2 separate regions of the Homo sapiens genome follow, and region 2 is linked to region 1. The links come from fine-mapping of genetic effects on gene expression. A gene starts in region 1. The other region holds a variant in brackets. All regions are shown on one strand. Distances are between the middles of the regions.

Evidence for each region.
Region 2: its variant is fine-mapped to the expression of P2RY14 in whole blood (INTERVAL, PIP above 0.99). The same link has a PIP of 0.9 or more in neutrophils.

The regions. Positions count from the first base shown.
Region 1 is chr3:151,274,969-151,283,652 of GRCh38, reverse strand. It overlaps P2RY14 (purinergic receptor P2Y14), which reads left to right and starts at 5,111. Exons shown (of 3, transcript NM_014879.4): 1 at 5,111-5,366. The region is part of intron 16 of MED12L (mediator complex subunit 12L); the gene reads right to left.
Region 2 is chr3:150,986,157-150,994,840 of GRCh38, reverse strand. All of the region lies in intron 1 of CLRN1-AS1 (CLRN1 antisense RNA 1), which reads right to left. Among named protein-coding and RNA genes, the nearest start is that of CLRN1, 18 kb to the right of the region's middle. The variant T/C (reference allele first, on the strand shown) is at 4,824.

The DNA of each region.
Region 1 (8,684 bases):
ATCACGGGTACAAAACAAAGCCAGCAAGGACGGCTAGGCATGATACAGAAACACAGGCCACATCAGAAGAATAATGACAACACTGAGGTATTAGGGACATGTCTAAAGACGTGGTGAGTCTTGCAAGCAAATGGGAACAACAGGAAGATAATCAGAGATGACACATTTGTGAGACCTCAAGGTGAAAAAGAAAATGCTTTCCTCTGCTTCCTCAGCATCTTTCCAAAAAAAATACTGAAAAGAGAAAATACACATACAAAAGTTTTTGTTTTGTAACAAAGTTCTAAATTCTGATTCTTTGCTAACATCAGTCGAGATTCAGTCCTTCTGATTTTCAAGATTTAAACCCAATCTAATGCTAGCAATACAGAAAATCTGTTTGCACACTTCAACTAATTGGGATTAGACAATCAACCATGACTCAACGTTAGTATCCACACCAAAGTGAGGTTTTGTGAACTGCCTACAATACATGTACAAATTGCACCTATTAATTTTTTTAAAAACTGTTACTTCTTTCAATCTACCAGAAGGGGGTGATATTGTACCAGGCATTTGTTTCTCCATTGTAATTCTCAGATGAAGGCAAGTGCACAATTGCCAATGAAGTCCCATGTCCTGTCATTCATTGCAAGAGGTTTAACAAAAAGGCATTATTTTATAATGTGGTGACTTATCTCACATCTTAATGATGTAATTTCTGCCCCCTTTCTCCACTACTCTAAATCAACAAGCTGGTAGAACTGAATGCTTCACATAGGGAAACATAAAAAGGCATGTCTGCATTCAATGTTTTCCTATCAGATTACAATTTTTTCAAAACACTTTTTCAATTATTTTACTACAAAGCTCAAAAACTTTACAGCACACTAAATTAGGAAGTCCTGAGCGTGACATTTTGGATCCCCGACATTACGCGCTCCTCCACCTTTGCTGGCTTTCCTAACATTAAACCTTGGCTCACATCATTCTTTTAATACAGTACTAAGTTGACTTTCACCCCCATTCTACAAGTAAAAGAGCCATCCAACAAGAAGCATTTTGGATGCTAGTTCCTTCAGAGATCCTATAGAGGACAATTTCCAAATATGCTTCCTTTAAATATCCTTGTACACTGTACTTTCATAAAATGTTTACACCGGGCCTTTACTAAAATCCTCTACATTCTTACGTCAACATCTTTCTCAACAACCAGTGGAATCCTTTCGGCAGCCATGCCCCCCAACACATACAAAACACACACACACAATTATAAATAACTTGCCAGCAAAACAAACAAACAAACAAAAAAAAACAAAAAAAAACTAAATTATATAACCCAGCAAATATCTGCTATGGTTAAAATAAATTCATTGAAAATGTTCATATTTATCTGAAAATCCATCAATAGGTACTGATTAAACAAATTATGGAATACTACAAAGCTACGAAAAAGAATAAGGTCTATACAGGGCTCACATGAACAAGTCTCCAAGAGAGCAAGTGGGGATGAGGCCGGATGCGCTAGTGTCTTACTCACTATGCTCAATAAAGCAACCAGGGAAAGGCAGGGGAAGGGCAGTAACAATGAAGTTGTCTCTGTACTTACTTTAAAGAAAAATGATTTCAAAAGACATATGGTAACAATTATGCATAGGTGAATTCCGGGGTAAGGAGCAAAATAGGACATTTATGGAATCAAAATGTAAGCCAGCCAGCTATTTATGCGCAGTCGATGACGGCCTGGATAGAAACTGACTGGAAACAGTTACAGACATATTTGGGGATTACGTGTGTTAAACTCATTCTATTTGTAGTATGAATACACAAGGGATGTTTATATATAACCAGTCCTATTACTAATAAGGCAGAGTCCTGTCTCTAAATGGTATTGGAGAATGTGTGAGCACGTGGGGTGGGCTAGGGGTGGTTGTCATATCAGGGTTATGTTGAGGGCTCTGAGAAAAAGATTAGTCAGGAGGAAATCACAGTACTTTAATCTTAGGATTCCACCAAAGGAAATGGGAATTCAGAACTATTTAGCATAAATCAAAACACCACAGATAAAAGGAAAATATTGACTATTTTAGATTTTGTTTTTTAAAAGATTCTTGCACACAAGGACCAGGCCCTCTATTATTTTAATTATAATGTCGTTATTGGCTATGTTGTATTATGCCTGGTGTCTAGTGTTGAAAAGAGTCATTACCTACGTTGCTAAAAGTCATAATAAAATATCTTTTTATTTTTTATTTATTTATTTTGAGACAGAGTCTCACTCTGTTGCCCAGGCTGAAGTACAGTGGCGCAATCTCAGCTCACTGCAACTTCCACCTCCCGGGTTCGAGTGATTCTCCTGCCTCAGCCTCCTGAGCAGCTGGGATCACAGGCGAACTCCACCATGCCCAGCTAACTTTTTTTTTTTTTTTTTTTTTTTTTTTGTATTTTTGGTAGAGATAGGGTTTCACCATGTCGGTCAGGCTGGTCTGGAGCTCCTGACCTTGTGACCTGCCTGCCTCGGCCTCCCAAACTGCTGAGATTACATGCGTGAGCCACCGTGCCTAGTTTAAAATATCTAATTTCAAAAACATATGAAGATAGAATAAATATTGTCAGGCTAAAATATTTTTTCAAACATTAATACTTACTTCCAATTCTAATAAAGGAAAATGTGTACAAGCTAAACTGTGATTTAAGCATATCCACAAAATGTACAGCACAACCTAAAGACTACTTCAAAGTCCAGTCCTGCTACTTTCTAGCTTAGACAACTGTTAAATTTTCTGAGGCTCTATTTTCTTACTTGTGAAAAAAAGGAATAGTTACTTCTCCAAGGGTTGCCAGGTGTTTTGGCTGTGAAAAGATCTAGTAGGCACAGAGTACGCTTCAATCGAGTGTACGAGTATGTGCATTTGAGACGATCCAATCTTTCCAGATGAGCTTTCCTTTCAAGTGCCTAGCTGTCTGCCCCCTACCCACCCCTCACCATCCTTGTACTGCTACGTGCCAATAAAACCACAGAACAGAGGTCACAAGCTGACTGCTCACAAGCCCAATACAGTGCACACTCAGGTTTTGTTTTAGCCCACAGGGTATCAGGTCTACACTGGTTTGTAAGGTATTCGATTTAGACACCAACAAATGAAATCAGAGGAGACATATAAAGGCAGTAGCAGTGCACAGGCTCCAGGATCTGCCCAGCTCCAGCAACCTGATGTAACATCTCCATGCCTCAGTTTCCTTGTCTATTAAGAAAAAGGTGGGGAAGAAGTAGTAGACAGACCTACTTTACTCATGGAGCCATTGTGAGTAATCAAGCTAAAACACACAGAGTGTTTAGAACAGTACATGCAAATCAGCGTTTAATGTTCTGAAGACACTGGCCCATCCCAAGATGAGGCCCATGACTCTGGCAAGCTTCCAGACACAACTGTCCCCCTGGGTGGGCCCTTTAGCTTTCCATTTCTCCATACTCCCTCTACTCCCAAGTGTCTTACACAGAGTCCAACCCATTTGTACCACCTGCCACGAGGGGACCACCTGTAGGGCTATCCTTTTGGCCTTGGACTTTGCAACTCCTGGCATTAAGAGGCAAGCAAGCAGCTCCAGTCAAAGAAATTATCATGTTCTCCCCAGTCATACTCAATAACATCTATGTGAAACACCCCACGGGGAAGTCAAGAAGCAACAAATTATCATGTTCTCCCCAGTCATACTCAATAACATCTATGTGAAACACCCCACGGGGAAGTCAAGAAGCACAAAAGGGACCCGGAACAATTAATGGGTGTTTTTGAGACTGTCAGAGTAAACAGCATCTCCTGCAATAAATCAGGGAAGTCTTGAGAGTCGCACCTTAGAGATACGGTTCCTGCCAAATCATCAATTTAATCAGCAAAATGTTTACATCTGGAGGACTCTGCAATGTGCCCTGGTAATAACCAGGCTCTAGCGGCTCCTCCTCACATCCACTTGTCCTTAAGTTTATTTACCTACCAGATCTCACTGCAGCTGAAGCTAACAAGCCTCTCTATGCACATCAGTATTCTTAGCCCCTCAATCAAAGCATCAGTGAGGACTATTGGGGCCCGCTGGGGGTCTGAAGAAGAGTCCCTCTGGCAGGGAGAAATGGCGAACTTCTCTAAACAAGCTCTGTGTCTCACAGGTCTTTGCCAAGGATCAACAGTGACTAGCAAGTCTGTGAGACAGAAAGTAAGAAAATACTCTTCATGAGGGAAATAACTGTTTGGGTATGTGTCAGTCACTACTCCATCTCCAATGTCCAGAACACTGCCTCCTACGTAGCAAGTACATATAAAGCAACTAGAATAGTAACGGGCATGTCATAAGCCAGTTATAATTATTATAACTAAATGTATAGCTATGTTTTTAAGGCAAGCTGAACTTTACTAGTTGTTACCCATAATTTGGCAATGGAACAGCCTAAGTAAATACACTTAAAATGCAGGAACCTTATAAAGTAAGCTTTTCAGCCCCTTGTCTTCTTTCTTTCTGGTTCTGAGTTATACACTTTGAAGAGGACTTTGTAGCCATCTTCTGAAAACTTCCAAATCTAATGGCACTAATAGTCAATGGGAAAGACAGTGGAGCACTGCAGGACATCACCAATTATATTACAGAGCCTGAAAGGAACTAAAAATATGAAGACTTTCAAAATAGTAACACAGCACAAACACCAAAATGTTAACACACGAGGAGTTTATCTGAAGTCCTACTTGTGATCTATTTATCAGTAATGTTCAAATATGGGAAAATTAATGTGGGAAAAATGACAATGCAACACCTCTTATCTAGAATATGTCGACATTGGTGTCAAAATACTTCTTTATTCTGTTAATTCCGCATTTCCAGGTAGCTCCAACTACCCATCTCTGCACGTTATACTGTGAAGCTGCTGACAATTTTCTGAGGGTGCTTCAGAAAGAACCATATCTTACACATCAGTTCTCCACCTCATACCACATGTTGAATTTGACAATGGCAAAGGTTAGAAAAGAAAACAGGTTTTTGCCTGGCTGTGCATCAGATGATGTAGGGATGTGGGGAAAAGTAGGAGGAGAAATAAGAAAGCAGGACTGTTTTTGCATTACTGGAGGAAAGGAACTAGCTCAGAAGTCAGCCTAACACCCACAGAGATTAAAACGTCTCTTCCTTCCTCTTTGTTTCCACGTCCCAGTCTTCAATAAATTCTATCTGACAACAGCAGCAGAGGGACCCACTATCTTGTGGTTTCTGTCAAGTTCCTGATTTTCATCCGTAGTTGAAGATGAGCAAGAACTCTGTAACAGTGTTACCTTGGAGCCTACAATGAGAGGTATTTCAAAATGAGTGAAGCATGACTCTCACAGATGAAGGCCTAGACGCAGGTAAGAAAACAGCTTTTCCATGAAATGACTTGCATGTATGTGAATGGTGCATGGGAACAGAAAAGATTTCTGAGCTGGGCAGCAACAAAGCTGAGGAACACTGAACCATTGCCACTCACATTTTTCTCAGTAGGTTACTTTTTGTTTGACAACTATAATTGGTATATTAATATATTTCCCCATGCTAATATGGGGATCCAATACTGAAATATTATCATTTATGATTTAGGATTTCCAATCGTGGCTGTCAAAATATATCTGTGATGAAGAGATATCAAGGAAAATGTTTAAAAGGTATTCATCCAGGACAAACATTTCAAAAGCTCGTAAATGTGTATTAAAATTGCTTCTCAAAACTACAAAATCGATTAGCATAATACTTAGGTCAGTATGTCTTTGTTTGCAATTGCATATGTGTACAGATATATAGTTGCATTTACTTGTACATACACTTATATAGGTAAAAGTTTTTATCTTTGTCATTATTAGGATAAGTTAACCCCATTAACACCTACTAAAATAAAATGCCTTTAAATTGTAAATCACAGAAATATCTGTCCTAGGCATAGCAAATATTTGAGTTCATATGCTACTTATTTATAGTCTATGACTAATCAGCTAAATTACTTACAATTCTTTAAACATTATAAATTAAATTACATTCAGGAGAATTAGCACAGACCCACAATGTCAGCTTATTCAACCAAGCCCATGCAATCCATCTTGTCTACATATACTTTGTTAACCAAGGACAATCAATCCTACGGAGAAAATGAATCAAAGATCACACTAGTAAAAAAATAAATAGTTTGTATATTCATCTTTCTAAAACATACAAACTTGATAATCAGTTTTAGCACTAAAAAAAAACCTAGCCATTAAGTTAAAAAGAAAACAATGCACTCGGAAAATACCAAAATGGCATATTTTATGATTTGTAAACATGCAATGAATTTTATATTTCGGTAAAATTTATGAATACTATATATACAAACATGCATACAATTGTGTGCACACAATTAACACATTGGTATATATGAATGAACTCTATATTGTCATGTCTGGAAAAAAAAAAAACAAGGAGGCCAGGCATGGTGGCTCACACCTGTAATCCCAGCACTTTGTGAGGCCAAGGTGAGTGGCCTCAGGAGAGGCTGGTCAGGAGTTCAAGACCAGCCTGGCCAACGTGGTAAAACCCCTATCTCCACTAAAAATACAAAAATTAGCTGGGTGGTAGTGGTGCATGCCTGTAATCCCAGGTACTCAGGAGGCTGAGGCAGGAGAATCGCTTGAGTCTGGGAGCCAGAGGTTGTGGTGAGCTGAGATCGGGCCACTGCACTCCAGTCTGGGCGAGAGAGTGAGACCCTGTCTCAAAAACAAAAACAAACAAAAATAAAACCAAAAGAACAGTGGGGAGATTCCAAGGTACTCAAAGCATGAAGACACAGGGGAAGTGGGCCGGGTGCAGAGGAAGAAGTATAATTTCCTGAAGTATTACGGTGCCCACTTCACAGTTGAAGCAGGTACAGAGGGTGTGACTATCCTGAGCAAGGCCACCTATGATGCTTCTAAAGTGCTGAACAGAAGAAGAACACGGCTCCCTAGAAGAACGTTCACTCTATAAAGTGCTTCTGAGTGAATTTAGATGTTGAGGCTTCCCTAAGCCTAAGGCTCTATGAACTCAGAAGTCACAGGTTTATTCCATTTGGCCCCAGGATATCCTTAGAAGTTAGGTCGGTCACAAGTGAGCTGTTTCAACCTCCCAGTGTGAGCAGTCTCTAGAATACCAAAAACAGACCAGTCCAGGAGGTAGGCTGACACCAACACAAGCATATTCTGCCATCATCATGAGCATCCTCACCTGCAGAAGGCTGTCTAGTGGAGGATGATGGACAATAAGGAGTGTTTCCTTTAATTGAAAATTATATCAGTACAAGAGTGCCAAGTTTGTTTGGATAGAGCAGTGGATCTCAAAGTGCAGATACTATACCAGCTGAATCAACATCACCAGTGAGCTTGTCAGACATGCAAATTATTGACCCCAAACCTACAGAATCAGAAACAATGGGGGTGGAGCCCAGCAATCTCTTTTAACAAGCCCTCCAGGTAATTCTGTTGCACATTCAGTTTTGGGTGACCCCATGTCCTGGGACAGATCCAGTTTTCACCTGTTGTCTGGGCATAATTGAAAATAGTGCCTCCTTTCTATCTCAAAAGTGTCCTTGATTGTATAATAAATTAATTATGATCATCAATATGATCACCCTGCCAGTTCATACTGGATGCTAAGAAGGCATTTCATTGGCCAGATGCTGTCTACTACTTGGGATTTCAAATTAGCTTCAAGTCTGGTGCTACACCCATAGCCTCCCCACCATCACCCCGCAATACTAAAAGATGCATTGCCTCCTAAAAGTCTGAGCAGCACAGCTAGATAAATCAACTTCAGTAAAAATATCCTATCTTAATGAGAAAAAATACCTACAACCAAACTATGTAAAATCTATTTTAAATTCTCAGCTTCCTAAGTAGCATGAGAATCAGGTCTCCAAAACCCTCTTTACTAAATTTTCTGGTTCTTCTTTACAGGGAATTTTCTTTTCCTCCCTAGCACCCTTAAAAAGGATAAATCTAGTAATTAATGAATGCTATTTTTATAGTAATCATTTGGTTACATTAATTCACCGAAACACCAAGTTTACCACAGCAAAGCTTCTCAATCCACCTGTTCTTTAAAGTCAAAGTGAAATACTGGTCATATGCTTTTAGATCTGATTAGATTCCTTTGAAATTTTTGTCTTTACTCGGTATAAATTAAATTGCTAGCTTTTTATTTTTCACTGAAACCTCCCATCTGTTGTTTTTGAAAAGCATCAAAGGCCTTAGATATCATGTTCTGACCCCTCATCATTCAAATAAAAGAACAGCCAGGGACGGGTGCTGGCTTCTACCCAATTATATGACATCTGCTTTTGAGGTTAAGATACCAAAGAAAAGAGGAAAAGATCAGTTAGTTGGCTTCTGAGGTTGGCCCAAAGCGATCTGTACACTTGTGGTGTGATCACTTGGGGAAAAAAATCTGATCCTCGATACTCTCCAGGATCATACACACGCAATTATTTTCATCACATCACTTATAGCCTCTAGACTCTAGGAGCCATTTATACCAAGCAGATGGGAAATGTGCCACCTTCTATAGTGGGAGAGACACCTGGCTGGAAAGAACTCACCTGTTGCTGATGTGATCTTCCCAGTGAGTCGAGCCCTAAGGTCAAAGGTTGGTAGGAGAGCTCACACAAGGTTTCATCTAAGAACATT
Region 2 (8,684 bases), 290 kb after region 1:
AGTCTGAGCTCTTTGCATTCATTTATTCATTCATTCTATCATTCATTTGTCATAAGCATTCATGAACATAGAGAATGTTCTTTTACTACATATGGAAAATGTTGGGGCTGGCTACATTAAAAAAAAGTACAGGCATGCCTCATTTTATTGTGCTTTGCTTTGTTGTGCTTCACTGATATTTTGTTGTTTACAAATTGAAGGCTTGTGGCAACCTTGCCTTGAGAAAGCCTATTGGTGCCATTTTTCCAACAACATGTGCTCACACACAAATGATAAGAAAGTGAAACAGTCTTATTGCTGTTTAGTGGTCTGGATAGAAGATCAAACCAGCCACAATATTCCCTTTAAGCCAAAACCTAATCCAGAGCAAAATCCTAACTCTATTTAATTCTATAAAAGCTGAGAGAGGTGAGGAAGTTGCAGAAGAAAAGCTGAAAGCTAGCAGAGGCTGGTTCATGAGGTTTAAGGAAAGAAGCCATTTCTAGAACATAAAAGTGCAATGTGAAGCAGGAAGTGCTAATGTGGAAGCTACAGCAAGTTATCCAGAAGATCTAACTACAATCATTGATGAAGGTAACTAAACTGAATAACAGACTTTTAGTGAAAATGAAACAGCCTTCTGTTGGAAAAAAAAAATGCCATGTAGGGCTTTCATAGCTAGAGAGGAGAAGTCAAGGCCTGGCTTCAAAGTTTCAAAGGGCAGGCCAGGGGTGGTAGCACATTCCTGTAATCCTAACATTTTGCGAGGCTGAGGCAGGTGGACCACTTGAGGTCAGGAGCTTGAGACAAGCCTGGCCAACATGGTGAAACCCCATCTCTACTAAAAATACAAAAAATTAGCCGGGCATGGTGGCATGCACCTGTAATCCCAGCTACTCAGGGAGGCTGAGGCAGGAGAATCACTTGAACCTGGGAGGCAGAGATTGCAGTGAGATGAGATCACGACACTGCACTCCAGCCTGAGCAAGAGTGAGACTCCATCTAAAAAAAAAAAAAAAAAAAAAAAGCTTCTCTTCAAAGGGCAGGCCGTCTCTTTTATAAAGGGCTAACGTAGCTGGTGACTTTAAGTTGAAGCTTGTGCTCATTTACCATTTTGAAAATCCTAAGGCCCTTAAGAATTATGCAAAATCCAGTCTTCCTGTGCTCTATAAATGGAACAACAAAGCCAGGATGAGAGCACATCTGTTTACTGCATGGTTTACTGAATATTTTAAGCCCACTGTTCAGACCTACTGCTCAGAAAAAAAGCTTTCAAAATACTACTGCTCATTTGTAATGGACCTAGTCATCCAAGAGCTCTGATAGAGATGTAGAGGAGATGAATGTTCTCATGCCTGCTAACACAGTATCCATTCTGCCACCCATAGATCAAGGAGTAATTTTGACTTTCAAGTCATACTATTTAAGAAAAATATTTCATAAGGCGATAGCTGCCACAGTGATTCCTCTGATGGATGTGGGCAAAGAAAATTGAAACCCTTCTGGAAAGGAATTGCCATTCTAGATTCCATTAAAAACATTCATGATTCATGGGAGGGGGTCAAAATATTAATATAGAAGTTTGGAAGAAGTTGATTCCCAACCTCATGGATGACTTTGAGAGGTTCAAGACTTTCATGGAGGAAATAACTGCAGATGTGATGAAAACAGCAAGAAAGCTAGAATTAGAAGTAGAGCCTGAAGATGCAGCTGAATTGCTGCAATCTCCTGATAAAACTTTAAGGATGGGATGAGTAGTTGCTTCTTATGAATGGGCAAGGAAAGTGGTTTCTTGAGGTGGAATCTACTCCTCATGAAGATGCTGCAAACACTGTTGAAATGACAACAAAGGATTTAGAATATTCCGTAACCTTAGTTCATAAAGCAGTGGCAGGATTTGAGAGGACTGATGGCAGTTTTGAAGGGGAGTAAAATGCTGTCAAACAACATTGCACCCTACAGAGAAATCTTTCGTAAAAGGAAGAGTCAATGGATGTGGCAAATTTCATTACTGTCTTATTTTAAGAAATTGCCACAGCCACCCCACCTTCAGCAACACCACCCTGATCAATCAGCAGCCATCAACATTGAAGCAAGCCGCACTACCAGCAAAAAGATTATGACTTGCTGAAGGCTGTAATGATTGTTACCATTTTTTTTTTTTAGCAATAAAGTGTTTTTATTTATGGTTTGAACTTTTTTAAGACATAATGCTATTGCATACTTTATAGACTACAATATAGTATAAACATAACTGTTATATGCACTGGGAAGCCAAAAAATTTGTGTGACCTGCTGTATTGTGATATTTGCTTTATTGTGGTGTTCTGGAATCAAACTTGCAATATCTCCAAGGTATGCCTCTATAAATATATAGGCAAAATAAATAAAGCTCTTTGTTCTCAAAAAACAATAGTGTAGGAAGAAAGGAGTTAAATCATTACCGTAATGCATGATAATGGGCTAATCAGCCATTTAGAAAGGGTGGAACCATCTCTGTCTAGAGGTGTCAGGAAGACTTCAAAGAGAAGAAAGAGCAAAAACTTTCAAAGGAAACCAAAGCAGGGAGGGGTAAATCCGGGAAGAAGAAACCACACAGGTGAGGACACAGGGGTATGAGAAGGTGAAGCTAGGAAGATGGGCAGTTTTGATCATGAGGATTTTTTATGCCAGGCTGAGGAATGATTCTTTCTATGGGTCTTGGGTGTTCTTGGTCAGATTTGCAATTATAAACAAATCAAATTTTTTAAAGTCTGTAGAGAAGAGGTTAGAGCTGGGTAGGAGTGCTAGGTGGGGTATTTTTCTTAATAGACTTTATTTTTTAAGAGTAATTTTAGGTTCACAGCAAAACTCAGAGGGAGGTACAGAGATTCCCCATCTACCCTCCTTCCCAACCACACGTATAGCCTCCCCAATTATCAGTATCTGGGTGGGGGATTTTCAGCATGGCAGTGACCAGGTCAGGTTTGCTCTGGGTCAGAGTAGGAGTTGCAGTGGGGAAGGTGGGGGAGTGAGGGGAGGTGGTGGTGGTAGTGCCTCTCAGAAGCTGAGGGGAGATGGGTGGAGTTGCAGGGAGTCGGTTCAGAGGCTCTTTTTGTTAGTCAGAGGAGTGTTCCTGAGTGCCTGGGCTGAGGCACAGCTGTGAAAACGGGGAACAGGGATGCATTTGAGAGATATTTAGGAAGAAAACCCACAGAGTTCAATTACTGATCAGGCATGAGGAGTGAAGGAAAAAGAAATGGTGTGCCTACTTCCCTGGTTTCTGAGCTGGGAGACCAGGTGGCTGGTAAAGGCTGCTGCCTTTTTTCTGCAATTAATACATTTAGGTTATAAACAGTTCAATAATACAGAAGCAGATGAAATAATAAGCGAAAGTTCCCTTCTGGTTTTTCTCCTTCACATTCAACGCCATTCCCCAAGGCATAGCCACTATTAATATTTTGGCATATTCCTCCAAGTGTCTTTCCATGCCTATACTGAACTCAATTAGTTTCTCAAACTCAAAGAGTAATTCTACTGCAAAGACATCCGGCCAAATCTTTGAAATTCCTAAAGAAGATGTTTGCACTTGACCATGTGTATCACAATGTTGGGCAAAGCCTTGGGCAAGAGGATAGTTTCAGCAATGAGGCTTCTTCCAGGAACCACACCTCTGAGAGTTCATTGTGGGCTACATCATAGATTCAGCCCTGTTCAGTACAGTTATTTGTAGGACCAAAAAAATGCTACATGGTGCCCAAGTGTAACACACCAGTAATTAAATTGATAAATCTTCTTTATTACCAATTCTTCTATAATATAGGTACATTCATGCCCCCAAGATAATCATAAAATATATTTTCTTTGGTATTCAATGCCCTGGAAATGCCAACAGAATTGTGTCTGTATGTACATCAGCTTTTAGTTGGAAAATTAGCTATGGAAAATTTACTCTCTCCTCTGACCTGGAAAATATTACTCCTACAAATTAAAGATAAGGCAAATGTCATAAGGATGTGAGGAGATAACTTTGATGAGATAAGAAACTGCAGTTGAATGAGATCCTACATGCATACTCACAATACATTAAAGCCGCTCAAATTTTCAAAGAAAAAATGTCTGCCTTTTTTCTGGAGCTAAAATTAATCATATTGCATACACTAAATTGTGAGTATTCCTACAGGGAATTCATTGGTTGGAAGTTACTACCAAGGACTAAAATGGAATAAAATAGCCCCACTTAAGAACTATAAATCTTTCTAAAGTTAAGTATTTCAGAGAGAACCTGTGTGAAAAGATATATTAGAATGGTAACTAAGCATACTAGGATATTGAGCAAGAAATTGTCAAAAATTTAAGTCTTATGTTTAATGTTTTAAAATTTGGTATAAAAATAGGAACCAATATGTAGCAAGTGTTAATTCTTGGTCCAGCAGTTTTCTTAAAACATCCTTGATATTTTAACTGTTTCTGGTGAGGCATCTCCCCAGTTCAGAAAGTAATTATAATTTAAATAAAAATTATTATAATAAAGAATAGCTAACATTTATTAAGCATTTATTATATGCTAAGCACTATTTCAAGGTATTTATATTATTCCATTTCATCCTCACAGCACATTATTATCACTCATTTTAAACATATGACTACTCCTGACTTTTAGAATTATTGGAGACTAAAGATCTGCTTATTTAGGGTGTTGTTTGGAGGTGACAAAAGATTCAGTGGTTTCAAAAACTTTTGTGCAAGGAGGGCATTCTGGGAAGATGACAAAGTAGGAAGCAACAGGAATTTGTCTGCCCACCTAGAAACAATTTCACTGGCAAAATCTGTCGGATGTAGCTATTGAGGAACTCTGGAGTCTG[T/C]TGAAAATTTGCAATGTCTAGGGAAGGCTTAGTAAATTGTGGTTAACTGTGGTCAATTTCAGCTCTTACTGCAGTAGCAGCTATCCTTCCTTCACCCCCAGCCCCATGGTATGCAGGTATGTACTTGTTCCCGAAGCAGCTTTTACACAGTTTGTGGGAGCCAGGGGACCCTGACCTCCAAATGCTGGGGATTTGTGCATTTGTGCTCTGCTCACTGATTGCAGCTTCTTCTTCTGTTTTTTGTTTGTTTTGTTTTGTTTTGAATAACCTGTGTGTGGATTTTTTTTTTTTTTTTAAACCAGGTCTTGCTCCATCACCCAGGCTGGAGCACAGTTGTGCGATCATAACTCACTGCAGCCTGGAACCTCTGGGCTCAGGAAATTCTCCCACTTCAGCCTCCCAAGTAGCTAGGACTACAAGCATGTACCAACACACCCAGCTAATTTTTAAAATTCTTTTAGAGACAAGGTCTCACTATGTTGCCTAGGCTGGTCTTGAACTACTGGCCCCAACGGATCCTCCCATCTCAGCTTCCCAAAGTACTCAGATTACAGGCATGAGCCACTGTGCCCAGCCATCACTGATTGCAGCTTCTGATCACAGAGGCGCAGACAAACACATAGTTGGCCATTGTTGCTGCATCTCTCCCACTGTGGCAAGCCCCTCCCTGTCCAGCTGAAGTGACTTCCAAAGGAGTAAATGGCTGGCACCACTCTCCACATCCTTAGTTTTCTCTTTTTTCCCTTTTGGGAGGCAGACATTGAAGACTAGGACATTCAAAAGCAACTGCATATACATTAGCAATTAGAACAAATGTTCATGCCCAGAGAAAGACAGGCTCAGAAAAGACCTGAGAAGACCTTAATTTTACACCTCAGGCTTATCCTTGGCGCAGAAACAACCTACCTAAAACAATTTTTAAAAAAATAAAAAAAAATGAAAATAGTATAACCTGGGAAAGGGAAAGAATATGATTTCCAGAGTTACTGCATTATTAGATTTAAATGTCTGGTTTTTGATAAAAAAAATTATAAGGCATACACAAAGAAACAGGAAAATATAGTCCATTCAAAGGAAGAAATAAATAAACAAAACAGCCCCTGAAAAAGATCTGATGGTCTCTGGGCACAGTGCCTCATGCCTGTAATCCCAGCACTTTGGGAGGTCGAGGCAGGCAGATCACTTGAGGCCAGGAGTTCGAGACCAGCCTGGTCAACATGGTGAAACCCCATCTCTACTAAAAATACAAAACTTAGCCAGGTGTGCTGGTGCACACCTCTAGTCCCAGCTACTTGGGAGGCTGAAACACGAGAATCCCTTGAACCCAGGAGGTGGAGGTTGCAGTGAGCTGAGATCATGCCACTGTACTCCAGCCTGGGTGACAGAGTGAGACTCTGTCTCTAAATAAATAAATAAATAAATAAATAAATAAATAATTCTGATGGTAGATCTAGTTGACAAAAACCCTTAAAATTATTGTCTTAAAGATGCCCAAATAATTAAAGGGAGATATGGAGAAAGTCAAGAAGACAATATTTGAACAAAGTGGAAATAGCCATAAAGAAACAGAAAACCTACAAAGAAACCAATAAGAAATTCTGGAGCTGAAATGTACAATAAGTGAAATAAAAATTCACTAGAAGGATTCAAAGGCAGATTTGAGCAGGTTAAAGAAAGAGTCTATGAACCTGAACATAGAACAATGGAAATGATCATGTCTGAGAAACAGAAAGAAAAAAGATTAACAAAAAGTGAGCAGAGCCTAAGGGGCCTGTTGAACACCACCAATATACATACTGTGAGAAAAGGAGAAGAGGGTAGAGGAAACAGTTAAAGAAATAATGGTGGAAACTTTACAAATATGATGAAGAATATAAACATAAATGCCAAGGAGTTCAAATAACTCCAAGTAAAATAAACTCAAAGAGACTCACACAGAGACAGATTATATATAATCAAACTTTCAAAAGACAAAGAGGGACTCATGAAAGCAGAAAGAGAGAAATAATTCATCATATGCAAGAAATCTTCAATAAGATTATCAGCAGATTTCTCATCAGAAGCTTTGGAGGCTAAAAGGCTGATATATCCAAAGTTCGAAAAGAAAAGAAAAAAAACTGTCAACCAAGATTCCTATATCTGGCAAAACTGTCCTTCAAAGTGAAGGAGAAATTAAGATATTCCCAGATAAAACAAAAGATGAGGGAGTTTGTCATCACTAGCCCTGCCCTGTAAGACATGTTCAAGGGAGTAAGGCACGGTAAAATAAAAGGACACTAGACAGTAACTCACAATCTTATAAATAAATAAGAATCTCAATAAAGGTACACACGCATGCAATTATAAAAGTCAATATTATCATAACAACAGTTTGTAATACTACCTTTTGTTTTCTATATGGTTTAAGAGACTAACACATTGAAAAAAACAATTATTAGTTTAAAAGCTAGGATTTTTGTAACTTTGGTTTGTAACTCCACATTCTATTTTCTATGTAATTTAAGAAACTAATGTATTTAAAATGTTACTAGCATATATTTTGGCATATGCAATAGAAAAAGATGTAATTTTGTGACATCAGCAACTAAAAGAGGTAGGGATGAGGCTGTAAAAAAGTAGATTTTTTCTTTATTATTCAAGTTAAGCTGGTATAAGTTCAAATTAGAGTATTATAACTTTACTGTATTAAGTGTAATTCCTATAGTAACTACAAAGAATATAGTTATAGAATATACACAAAAGAAAATGAGAAAATAAGTTAAACATTTAACTACAAAAAAAACCGATGAAACATAACAGAAGACAATAATGCAGGAAATGAGGGACAAAAATCTTACAAGGTATGTTAAAAACAAATAGTCAAATGACACAACTAAGTTCTTTCTTAGCAGTGATTAATATAAATATAAATAGATTAAACTCTCCAATCAAAAGAAAGATTGGCAGACTAGATAAAAAAACACATAATTAAACTATATGCTGTTTATAAGACACTCACTTTAGATCAAATAGATTGAAAAAGACATGGATTGAAAGTGAACAGATGGAAAAAGATATTTCATGCAAATAGTAACCAAAAGAGAGCAGAAGCAGTGATAGTAATATCAGACAGAATAGGTTTTAAATACAAAAACATTACAGGGGTCAAAGAAGGACATAACATTTTAATAAAAGGTTCAATACAGCAAGGAAAGATAACAATTATAAACCTTTATACATATCTAATAATAAACTATCAAAATATATGAAGCAAAAACTAATCCAACTGAATGGAGAAATAGACAGTTGTACAATAATAGTCAGATACTTCAATATCCCACTCTCAGTAATGGATAGAACAACCAGGCAGAAAACAAGTAAGGAAGTAGAGGACTTAAACAACACAATACACCAACTAGATGAAACAGACATATATAGAACACTTTACCCCCAAATACAAGCATACATATTCTTCTCAAGTGCACATGTGACATTTTCCAGGATAGAATATAGAATAGGCCACAAGTTAAGTCTCAAGTCTCAATAGAATTAAACAGGTAGATGTCATGCAAAGTATCTTCATTGACTACAAGGGATAAAGTTAGAAATCAATAATTTAAAAAAGGTGGAAACTTCAAATATTTGTGGAAATTAAACACAATACTCTTAATCAATAGATCAAAGATGAAATCACAAGGGAAATTAGAAAGTACTTAGAGACAAATGAAAATAAAATACAACATATCAAAACTTATGGGACACATTGAAAAGAGGAAAATTTATAGCTAAAAATTAGTCTCCCCTTATTCATGCAGGGTACATCCCAAGGTCCCCAGTGAATGCCTGAAACCTCAGCTAGTATCCTATACATATGATGTTTTT